Homo sapiens: one gene and its partner. The protein of the gene in region 1 interacts with the protein of each later gene in a biochemical or structural test. Each region holds a gene or a part of one and is shown in the gene's direction. Other genes may lie near its edges. The genes, in order: ANP32A and TAF1A.

Region 1 (5,155 bases):
TTCCATCTTTGGACTTAGGTGGGTGTGGGAGGGTCATGAGCCCCACACTGAAGACGCTACAAGGGGCCTGTGCTGTGTGGGGGGCGGAGCCAGCTCACCACTAGTTCTGTTTCCGTTCCCCATTTCGATTGCACAGAGGAGGAGTATGATGAAGATGCTCAGGTAGTGGAAGACGAGGAGGACGAGGATGAGGAGGAGGAAGGTGAAGAGGAGGACGTGAGTGGAGAGGAGGAGGTAAGGAGGCTGGGCTGGGCAGGGCCACCGTCTGCCCCTTTGAGGCAGTCCCACTGACTGCCTCTGTGATCAGTCTTGGCAGCCCCGGAGCCCTGGTTAGGAAAGTCGCTCCCCGATGGGTAGTGAAGTGAGTCCATTTCAGAGCCTTTCACTGGGCTGTTTCTGGGGAGACAAGACTTGCAGTAAGCTCTGGGGAGGCTGGATTAGAAGAGGGGAAGAGGATTTTAGAGGCAGGGACTGAACCTGCTGGGGTAAGCCTGGCCGTTGTTTCTATGTGAAGAAGTACAGAATGCATGGCCCCATTTTCTGCTTTTTGCTTTCATATGCTAATTAAGATATTCATTGAGCACTTAAACTGTGCTAGGGAAAACCAAAGTCTGCCTTGAACTGATAGGTAGCAGGATAACACTGCTGGATCCCAAATCAGAGAGTGACACTATGGAAATAGAGCACCAGGAGTTGGCCATTTTCCTAAAGAGATTGGCTGGTTCCCAGTTTTTTAACAAGATCTGTGAGGGGGTGAGTCCCAGCTCTACCACTCGCAAGCTGTGTGTCCCCAGACAATTTACCTGACCTTTCTGAGCCTATTTCTTCATCTGTAAAATAGGGATCATGATAGCTTTCTCACAGGGTTGTTAAGAGGATAAAGTGAAGTGTAAGTAAAATGCTTAAGGACAGTGTCTGACAAGGGGTAAGTGTCTGACTGCTTATTGTAGGCGTTCACACCCTCCTCCAGGTTCCTGGCACTGTGTTGGGTTTTGTGTTTGTGTGTTCTGAGTCTCTCTGTAGCAGAGTCATTTTCTATGACTTGCTCAGAATTCTAAATCAACTCTTGCTAATTGCAAAAGTTAGAACTAGAGAGTTTTAAAGTGACAATAGCATGGACAAGGCGCCTGTGTCCCCTCCCAACTCCCCCCGCAGTTTCCTGTCTCCCTCAATGGAGGATGCAGACACATCCGCTTGCCACACGGACTCACTCAGATAGTGTCTTCCAGTTCCAGCCAGCCGGCCCAGGCTTGAGAGACACAGGCCAATGACAATAGAATCGCGGAGGCCAGGCGCGGTGGCTCACGCCTGTAATCCTAGCACTTTGGGAGGCCGAGGCGGGCGGATCACTTGAGGTCAGGAGATCGAGACCAGCCTAGGCAACATGGCGAGACTCCATCTCTACTAAAAATATAAAAATTAGCCAGGCATGTTGATGGATGCCTATAATTCCAGCTACACAGGAGGCTGGGGCACGCGAATCGCTTGAACCTGGGAGGCAGAGGTTGCAGTGAGCCGAGATGGCACCGCTGCATTCCAGCCTGGGCAATAGAGCGAGACTCAGTTAAAAAAAAAAAAAAAAGCTGGCCAGATGAGCTTGGTTTCTGTTTAGTTGTGCTGCTGGCTTTGCCTTCTCCCTAGGTCTAGACTCTTAGGCTCATCTCTAAAGAATATTGTATTTTAAAAATAAAGTCTTAGTAAAACAGGTTCCCCTAGAACAGGGCAGTAAGTTGTATTGGCTAATAGCTGTTACATCTTCCTCTTCCTGTCACAGGAGTGCTGCATGTGAGGTTTGGGGGGGTGGGGATGGGGGAGGGTTGTGGATTTTGTTTTTTGTTTTTTGTTTTTTAAATAATCTCACTGACCATCTGCATATTTCCAGCTTTCAGTAAAGGAGAGCTTATACATGCAAAAAAAAACCAGAACCTTAGCAAACAGACTGATGAGGGAACTCTTTGGTGACATTTTAAAAGAATGTTTCCCTTGACAAAAAAGAAGTCTGTCACCAAGTTCTTTTAAACTTCAGGAACCAGGTTTAACAAGCAGAGATTCAACTTGCATATACTTTCAGGAGCAGAGGAAAGCAAGGGCCCTGTGTTGAGAAAGAAAGTCATACACCTTGCTGAATCTCAAGCCGGTTGGGAATGATGTCCTCAGGGGGTCTTGAATTTATCTTCCCCAACCCTTCCAGGTGGTCCAAGTTTGCAAGCTAGGGAAGGGGCTGGGTCAGGTGACGTTGAACTTGCCCACAGAATCTGGATTTGCTTAAACTGGGGTCTTCTCTTGAAGCCAAAACTAGATTGAGGACAGATGCAAGAAAGGATGGCCTACTTTGCACGTCAGGGAGTCTGCTCGGGAACTTGTTCTCCTCAGAGAATGTGCAGACTGGAGAGCTGCCTGCCTTACAGGGACTTCAGATCAGAGTTCTTAACCTGGGTCCTGGAATCCATAACCCCCTGAAACTGCTTGCAAATATTATAAATGATACGGACATTTTCTGGAGAAGGAGTTCAAAGCTTTCTGCAGATTTCCCAATGAGTCCTTGATCTGAAATAAATTAAGAACCTCTGCTTTACATTCCTCCCGAGATGTCAAGTCTTGGTGGGGGCTCTGAGAGGCTGGGGGTGACCCCGGCCTTTTTGTGCTCTGTGTGGCTTCCTCAGCATGTCCCAAGGCAGGGCATTTCTAATGTTCTGGTGTCTGTCCTTTCTCCTAGGAGGATGAAGAAGGTTATAACGATGGAGAGGTAGATGACGAGGAAGATGAAGAAGAGCTTGGTGGTATGGCAGCCTTTTTACTCTCAGCTGGTAGCAGCCTGGCCCTTTCACTTTGGCCTTAGATTGCTTAGACTCAGAGGCCCCTGGCAGTGGGCAGGACACTCCTGTCAGAGGCCTCAGATTCCCCTTCCAGCTGTGCAGATGTCTTGCCTCGGTTTCCAAGGATGGCACAGCTTGCTAGTCATGGGTCCCCTGACTTCTCACTGGGTGGGTTGAGTTAAAGAGGTGGGATTAATAACTAATCTAAATGCCGCTTTCTTACTTTTCCAGAAGAAGAAAGGGGTCAGAAGCGAAAACGAGAACCTGAAGATGAGGGAGAAGATGATGACTAAGTGGAATAACCTATTTTGAAAAATTCCTATTGTGATTTGACTGTTTTTACCCATATCCCCTCTCCCCCCCCCCTCCAATCCTGCCCCCTGAAACTTATTTTTTTCTGATTGTAACGTTGCTGTGGGAACGAGAGGGGAAGAGTGTACTGGGGGTTGCGGGGGGAGGGATGGCGGGTGGGGGTGGAATAAAATACTATTTTTACTGCCACTCTTTATTTTTTTCCCCTACTTTTTCTTTGTGTCCGGTTTTTGTCCCTGTAAATGCGATAGCTAAGTACACACTAAGTGAGCATTTGTTCCTGACTCTCAAAGAGGATGGTTTGGAGTTCTCTTACGTTTCCTGGTATTTCCCAAGTCTCTTGGGTTGGTTGGAAGGCTGTGGCTGGTCTCAGTTTGGTTACTCAATGCCCAGGAGGGGCTGAGCACCAGCCATATCTTTTGCTTTGGTTCACATGATGATACCTGCTTTTCTCAGGCCTGCTAGAGGCATCCAACGCCCTGGTTTGTAAATAGCAACCTAAAGGCGTATTTTGGCACTGGTCTGGGGACATTCCCCATCTCTCATCCCTTTTCCCCCTTCACAGATGGTGGTGGGCTTCGCTCTACAAAGAGGACTCTGATGTTACTCTTGAGCTTATGAGCCAGAGAGCTGAAAACCGCAGGCTTGTTGTGTTAAGTTACAAGGAAAATGGATTTGGTAATTAAAATTAGAAGAAACACACCTTCAAACTTCAACTTCTTTAAAAGAAAAAAAAAACTGTCCTATCTTGTTCTGTAAAATATTAGAACGCTTTGTTTTACAAAAAATGATGAGAGAATTCTTCCACATGTACTTCTGTGCTTAGAACATTTTTACGGACCTAAGCGCTGGAGACGTTGCTGCATGTCGGCTGGGTTTTTTTTTTCATACACCCGAGCACGGAAAAACTAACGCAAAATTGTATTTTCTTACCTAGTGGAAATCTGAAATGACTGCAAATTCCTAGTGAATGTACAGGTTTGCTTTCGTGTCCCTCTTCTGGTTGCTTTAGAAGTGACGTGTAATTTCTGAACCCATGTTTCATCTGTATAAAAGAACATCTGCACCAGTTTTTCTCCTGCCCCTCAGAAGAGCCAAACTTTGAGTTTTATGTCTGTTTGTCATTGATAAATTTCAATAAATCTTTTTATACAATTTTTTTGGGGATGGCTTCTTTGAGTCCAACAGGCCATTGATCTTTTCAAGATGCATTCCAGATGAACTGCTAGGTGAGGGGGAAGCTTCATTTTTGTTACCTGATAGAATAGCTTTTCTTATGAGATATATATAATGTGATACTATGTTTGGATATTTTTGGTCTTAAAGCAAGACTCAGTGGTGTATCTTCATTAAAAGCTTCCTTTAAAAAAGTTACAGAGTTACTAAAAAAACAAGTACCCAAACAATCAAGTTGGGCCAACCTTGGAACCTTGTTTTGAATATCTTTCATTGTTTTGTTTGTCGTATTGTAAAAAGAATGTATGGTTGAAAACTCAGGAATGTTTATAAAACAAATTATTTCACAAACCCAGAGGTTTACATATGGTGTTTTATTTTGTTACTTTACTTAACAGTATTATAATCATTTCCCTGTTTCTTTAATTTTCAAAAGCATGTATCTTAAATGGCTACATAGTAGTCCATCAACTATATTCTGATTTACTTAATTCTAACCAAATGGTTAGATGTTTTCATTATGTCCAGCTTACCCCTGTAGTGGATATTGTTATATTACTACTTATTTATACTTTTTGTGGAGTTCTTAGTACAAACTCTTAGAAGTAGTAGAGTCATTGGACCAAAAGCTAAAAACATTTATGAGGCTCATGTACAAGGTTCCATGTTTTCCAGAAGAGTTCAGCCAGTTTACTGTGGTTGTTTATACACGTACACATATACTCATTCTTATGTATTCATTCTATACAGCCTTGAACCCACAACAAGCCCTAGTTCCTTACAATGTCTTATAGTTGTTGTGTGATTCCAGCAGTGTAAAGTGTTTCCAGAAGAGCCCGTGACCCACCTCA
Region 2 (7,294 bases), on another chromosome or scaffold:
TGTCTATTCAAGTCCTCTGCCCTTTTATGAATTGGGTTGTTTGGTTTTTGTTGTTAAATTATAGGAATTCTTTGTATATTTTGTGTTCAGTTTTTAATCATGGCATTTTAGAGGTGAAAGACAAAGGTCCTTTCAACCTAAAGAAATGATAGAGAAAAGTTCTTATCTCTGTTTTCTTTTAAAAGGCCAATTATCTTTATACTTTCGTGATCAAAATTGGCATTATCAAACCTTCAGATGTGGAAACTAAGTTTTATAAATTTTTCAACAGGCTTTGTTTTACTAAACAATCCTTTGCTGTTGTTGTTGTTTGAAACAGGGTCTCACTCTGTTGCCCAAGCTGGAGTGCAATGGCATGATCACGTGAGGCTCCCTGTAGCCTCCACCTCCCTGGCTCAGGTGATCCTGCCACCTCAGCCTCCCGAGTAGCTGGGACTACAGGCACACGCCACCATGGCTGGCTAATTTTTTGTATTTTTGGAGAAACAGGGTTTTGCTATGTTGCCCAGGCTGGACTAAACAATACCTTTAAAGTTGCTATTTTTATTTTACTCTCTTAAGATAGCTTTTGGCTCATTTATATTACAAAATATTAAGGATTGTGTTTAAAACAAAAGCAAGACTGTGCTTTCAGGTTATCAATCACTAATGGTGTTTTTGAAAAGATTTTTTAAAATGCTACAGAAAATAACTGTTGAATACTTATCTCATATTTATATTCAAGACAAGATGGATTTAGAGAAATTCTGTTTTTCCTTTTGAAAAATAGGGTATTTGGAATTAAGATCTCAATACATGGGTTTAATAGCAGATTGGACATAGCAAAAGAGAGGATTAATGAACTGCATAGAAAATATCAGGCTAAACCATGGAGAACAAAAAGGATGAAAGGTGCAGAAACGAGCATACAAGTGAATTGGTGAAAAGATCTGACATACCTGTCATTGGAGTCCTAGGTGGAGGACCTCTGAATAGAACAGGGCAAAAGCAAGCAAACTAATTTTTTAAAAACACTGGCATTTGAAGGGCTCATGACTAAGACTTTTTCAAAACAAATGGAGGATTTCTAGTGTTCTGGTGATGTGCTATTATTTGATCTGGGTGCTGGTTACCTGAGTGTTTAACTTTGTGAAAACTGACTGGTGTCATGATTTGTATGCACTTCTACTACATGTTATATTTCAATAGAAAAATCTAAGTGAATTGAGCCATATACAGAATTCTATAAAATCATGAGACAAATGTGACTTTCATAGGAACTGAATTTCAATAATATTCTCTGATATTGGTGTATTGATCTTGATTGATCTTTTTAAAAATGATTAAGAGAAATTAACAAAATTTACTTTTAATTTTGTTGGAAATTATTTCAATGTAAGGTCAAAGTACTTTAGTAAGCAGAATGAATTCATTTCTAGTATTAAATGTATTAAAATGAAAAATACAGCTTTACTTTAAATTCCATTTTTTGAATATTCATAAAAATAGTCCTTCCTATTTTTTAAAAGAAAAATCTTTAATTTTTTCATTGTGTGAAAGGTTGTTAAAATATTTACTCATATAACCTTAGTAAACTGTTCCTGAGCACAATCTGTGAAATTAACTCCCAGCCTTTTTAGCTTTTTTGCTTTATATAAATATTCTGTGATCTCTTCTGTTTAGTAAATAAGTATATTTTCTGTGTGATAATTGATTTTTTTCTTTTTTTCTTCAGTCCTGGCTTCTGAAAGAAATCGTTTTTAGTTGTTGAGCGTGGTAAACAGTATAGATATGTATAAGGAGCAAATAAAAAGTCCCTGCCTATTTTCCTCACTTCTCCTGACTATTTTGTTATCAGGGCCTTTTTTTTTTTTTTTTTTTTAAGACAGCTTTACAGAGAATGCTTTTCTATACTTAGATTGAAACTAGATAAAGAGCCAGGGTATTTTTAAAATACTTAATAAATTTAAAGGGAGCATATTAGACAGTAAGAACTTTATTTTGAAAGTAAGCTGAAATTTGAGAAATGCTTTTACAAGTATGTAAAGATTACAAGACTGTTCTTTCTTTCAGATTTTGTATCAGATTGTACCATCTCATAAATTGATGTTGGAATTCCATACATTACTTAGAAAATCAGGTAATAAATAAATGTTGTTTTATACCTTGTGTAGACAAGCTATAGACTAGGGACCAGCAAACTAGTTTAGCCCATCGGCTAAATCCACCCCTTTCCTGATTTTATAAATCAAGTTCTGTTGGAGTCCATCTGTTTCTGTATTGTCTGCGGCTGCTTTTGCACTATAGTGACAGAGCCGTGTAGTTGTGACAGAGACTGTATGCCTTGCAAAGCTTAAAATATTTATTATCTGGGCCTTTATAGAAAAAGTTTGCCTACTCCTGTTACACAATGTGAAGGCAGTAGTTTGCAAAAGAGAAATGGCTCGATTTTATATAATTCACTCCATTTTAATCCCTGCTACATTTCAGCACACCATAGAAGAGAGCATGCTCCTTCATAGAAGAAAATCAGCTGGCTAAGCCCAAGCTGGTCCTAGGACTGCCTAGGTTCCTCTCTGAATATGAAAGAACATGTATAAAATGCCCAAACAGGGCAGGTACTTTAAATAATGTCCTTAGTAGAGGAGTGTAACCCATATTGAGATCAAATTCACCACCATTACCTCATTAGCAGGGATTTTTATTGAGTTTTTCAGATTCATTGCAGGAGTAAGAGCATAATGAATTTTTAAAAACTGTTAACCAGAAGGCTTATGATTCAGTATTTTATCAACAACATATATGTAAAGTATATATACAGTTGATAAAATGTATACATGTAAATTTTAGCTTTGTACACTTTAATACCTTATGTAAACTTGAACTGTTAAAACCATTGCAGAAAAAGAAGAACACCGTAAACTGGGGTTGGAGGTATTATTTGGAGTCTTAGATTTTGCCGGATGCACTAAGAATATAACTGCTTGGAAATACTTGGCAAAATATCTGAAAAATATCTTAATGGGGTAAGAAACATACAGTGTTTATTACTAGGTCATCATAAATAATATTTCCCAATATTTTAGCTAATATCAATTTTTAAAGATCTTTGCTTATGTTTTATAATTTCTTGAATTGTGTCTTCAGCTGTTTTCTGAGTACATTTTCTTCTGAAGCAAAGAAATACAGAGTCATAAGGAGAACATACAAAAATTCTATCAATTTTTTTATGCCATCAAAATAAATCCTGTACTTAGCACTACTGCTTGCTAAGGAATACGTATGTGTTTTCCATTTGGAAATAAAGACTAGCAGGGATCACTCTTTGCTAAAGACTCTTTGTGATTTGTGCGTCATTAACTTGTAAGATCACATGGGAAGCAGCTTTCCTCCTACCTGTGTTTGATCATTTTCAGTGAGTATTTTTAGGACCTGACAAGATCATCATACACTAGTCATTTAACAAATACTCATTAAATCCATTTTGACCTGGGTATCTAAAAGTGTACCTCTGATCATAATATTGTTAGTGTCACATTTTGAGTAAAAGAAAATGAATTTCCTGTTATTTTTACTTAGTGTGTGAGAAGAAGGGATATTACAAAGTTGTTTCATATATTTATTATATCCAATTTAGTTGTTAGGCAATTCAGTGTCAGTTGGAAATTGTTTCAGGCTTCAGATCTGACTTGTCCCGATGGGACAGTGCTGTTTATAAAATGGTTTTGGTGTCATATGTTGACGCACTCACTGTAAAGCATTTTCTAAATCTGAAGCCCTGAATAAACTTCTACTAGATCATAAGGTCCTTGAAAGCAAAGAGGTTCATTTTTTCGAACCTCTATTTGTTCTACCATAGGGGGCACATGGGTGCCAATAAGCATTTGCTCAATTAAATTATAGAGATCTAATGTGCAACGTAGACTGTAGTTAATATTGTATTGCATATAGGAAATTTACTATGAGTAGAGTTCAGGTGCTCCCACCACTCAAAAAAGTTAACTATATGTATATGAAACATGTTGTATACCTTAAATATATACAATAAAAAAAATTATTCACAGACACACAGAATTGCCTGCACTTAACAGTTTAACATATGTCTTAATGTATTTGTATAATAATGGTATCTCCATTTGGATAGTAATTCATGGCAGCATATAATTTTAAGTAAGGTTTTACTTAAGTAATAGTAATAGATAATATTTATTGAACATTTACTATGTACCAGACACTATGCAAAGAGCTTTATATGAGACCTGCTGTACCCTACTACTAGAATAGTTTAATCTTAATAACATTCCTATGAGATCAGTACCACTAATGTCCTCAAGGGCACTGAAGCTCAGAGAGGTTCAGCAACTTGCCCAGGATCACATACATAGTAGATGGAAGAGCTGATATTTGAATCCAGGATTCTGGCTTCGAGTCTGTTCTGTAACCACTGTGCTAAACTGTCTGTTTAGTGAAATGGAAAATGGGATATGGAGATGGAAGAGAACAAAAAAGGATTTGCTTTCCTGCTGTTGCCAATCATGTGTTATGCCTTGGCCATATTGAGAATTTAGCTTGGAAGCATCTTCCTTGTCATCTTTCTGTAGACTCTAGTTAAGTCTAAATTCTGATAATATAGATTTGTTTCCATCATTGACCCTCTCTTTTGACATTTTTCTTTTCCAGAAACCACCTTGCGTGGGTTCAAGAAGAGTGGAACTCCAGGAAAAACTGGTGGCCAGGCTTTCATTTCAGCTACTTTTGGGCAAAAAGTGATTGGAAGGAAGATACAGCTTTGGCCTGTGAGAAAGCTTTTGTGGCTGGTTTACTGTTAGGAAAAGGTACAGTTTTTATTTTCGTTTTATCTAGACACAGCTTTGGCTGATTTTGAAATTATGAAGTATGGCCTTCATTTAGAGCTTACCTAACATGGTACCTAAAAATATTAGGTGCTTAAGACATAACTGCTCAATGGAAGAGTGAATCCTGAGTTGGGACTATGTGCTTAGATTAGAAGCAGTGATTTCATATTGATTGTGAACGGTTTTCATCTCCTGACTTGAGTGTTGTTAGGGGGCCATTAAGATACATGATACAGAGTTTTCACAATAATTGACCATTTGGCCTTGTTTTATAGAAAGTTTACTGAGATTTTCAAGTGTCAAAATATTCTTTATTGACCTCACTGTTCTTTAATAGCTTCATATTATACTAATATTTACTTACCTGTTTCTGTAAGCGTGAAACATTTCCTCCACTTAAGAGAAAGAATACCTCCTACTAGCATATGAAAAAAATTCTCTTCAAAGAAAAGGGATATTGATTTTTTCTTCAAAGAAAAGAAATATTTTGGGTGGTAAAATTCTTACCTGCTTTCTGCCACTGAAATTATTAAAAGGTGGCCAGTACCGAAATGAAACTACCACAGAGTATGTCCAGAAATGAAGAAAATAAATCTTACAGTGACCACTAGTAAGCAGTCCATTGCTAGGGAGCTTAAGGTGTCCTGAAGAGATTCTCCAATTCACTTTTGAATATGGTTTCTATTATTTTGGAATTAGTAGTCTCAGTGAATGTAATACAATGTTGATTAAGAAGAAAATAAAAATCAATACACTGATGACAAGGAACAGAAAGGTGATTTGGATTGTCATTTTTCTACTTTATGAGTAGAGCGGCATCTAGCACAATTATCAAGAGGTCTCTTTGAGCAGAGTAGGAAGATCTGGGTTAATTTTCCAATTCACTCCCTTGCTATCTAACTTAGGTCAAGCAATTAACTTTTAGGAGCCTTTTCTATGAAGTGGGCATTGTAACACCCATCTTATTGTTGTAAGTATCATGTGAACATCGCATCAAAGTGCTTTGTAATTTCTAAAGTGCTCTACAAATATCAGGCATCAGTTACTCCCGCAAGAGCCACATCTCCTCTCAGGCTGTTAGTGTGGGGTTGAGTCAGTCTATTCATTAGTTAAGCTGGGTTTTCTTCTTGCTCTGGTTACCAACCTTACTTTATAGGATTCAAATTCTGGGTGTGGTCTGCCTTTGCTTTGTGCTTTGAGTGGGGTATGGTGGCTCTCTTTCTTTCCATGCTGCACTAAAAGCAAGCCAGGCCCATTTCTCCTTGGAGGGGTCTTTCCTTGTTGGGATTGAAGCTACTTGGTTGCCCTGTGACTTCAGCTCTCATGGACTTGAGAGTTAGTTTATTAAGCTTTTTCTCTATGTTAGGGTGGGAACGAAATTCTTTCCAGCTTTCTATATAGGTACAGGCAAAAATCTGTGTGCAAAGTATTTTGTTTTTTACTAAGGTAGTATGATATGTTTAGAAATACAAATTATTTTAGTAACACTACAGACACCACTGCTTCCCAGCTAGTAAAACGTTACTAGCTGGGTGCGGTGGCATGCAGTGTGCCTGTAATCCTAGCTACTTGGGAGGCTGAGGTGGGAGGATTACTTGAGCCCAGGAGTTTGAAACCACTTTGTGTCCCATAGTGAGACCCCATCTCAGGAAAAACAACAAAACAAAGATGTTAGCAATTCTGGCATACTAGTTTCAGGAATAATAAAAATGGTTACTATAGGTACAGTATATGTCCTTGCATTTTCTCAGAGAAGATGGATGCATACAAGCTGAAACTGTAATGAAATTAATTTTTCATATGTGAATTATGGTCTTATTCATTTACCAACTCTAAAAAACCTCAATATCCAGTTTACATTTTTCTTACAGAAATATGATTCATTTGTCTGAAATATTTGACAAATGCTTGACAGTCCTTTGTGTGTTGTAAGACTTATGAACAGCAGGTGGAACTTCTAATGAGCATGAGGCACCTCTGTGAGAGCTACATGGTCTCCACCTTGCTGCTCTCTACATGGCTAGAATGAATAGATAATGTTTGACCGTTTCTAACCTATGATTTGTTTATTCTAATCCTTCACATCCTAAGATTTTCTACAGAGAACTTTCTTACTGTTATGAACGTAACTTTGGCTGATTTACAAGCTAACATTGAGAAGGAAGCTATACGAATGTGCTTTTGGAGAAGGCTCATTTAATATGTGACTGTATATAATATGCCTGTCACCATCACTAGGGTGTAGGAGGAAGAGTAGAAAACAAGCTAAAGTCTATGCTTTAATTATGGTGGATTAGAAACATCTTTATATATAGGAAGAAATATGTTTCGTTGGGCACAGCTGAGAATATACTTATGCCATATTGGTAATACAAATAAATTTTGTATATAGGAACAAATGTATTTCATTGGGCACAGCTGAGAATATGCTTAGGACATATTGATAATACAAATAAATC

Evidence for each region.
Region 2: the proteins of ANP32A (region 1) and TAF1A form a complex in vitro, tested with the Homo sapiens proteins (one study listed by BioGRID).

Annotation. Positions count from the first base shown.
Region 1 is NC_000015.10:68,778,035-68,783,189, reverse strand, and holds the end of ANP32A (acidic leucine-rich nuclear phosphoprotein 32 family member A), read left to right. Parts: intron 1-136; coding exon 137-234; intron 235-2,716; coding exon 2,717-2,780; intron 2,781-3,047; coding exon 3,048-3,109; 3' UTR 3,110-4,655; downstream 4,656-5,155. UniProt on the Homo sapiens protein: Multifunctional protein that is involved in the regulation of many processes including tumor suppression, apoptosis, cell cycle progression or transcription. Promotes apoptosis by favouring the activation of caspase-9/CASP9 and allowing apoptosome formation.
Region 2 is NC_000001.11:222,558,884-222,566,177, reverse strand, and holds part of TAF1A (TATA box-binding protein-associated factor RNA polymerase I subunit A), read left to right. Parts: intron 1-2,052; coding exon 2,053-2,119; intron 2,120-2,881; coding exon 2,882-3,005; intron 3,006-4,659; coding exon 4,660-4,814; intron 4,815-7,294. UniProt on the Homo sapiens protein: Component of the transcription factor SL1/TIF-IB complex, which is involved in the assembly of the PIC (pre-initiation complex) during RNA polymerase I-dependent transcription.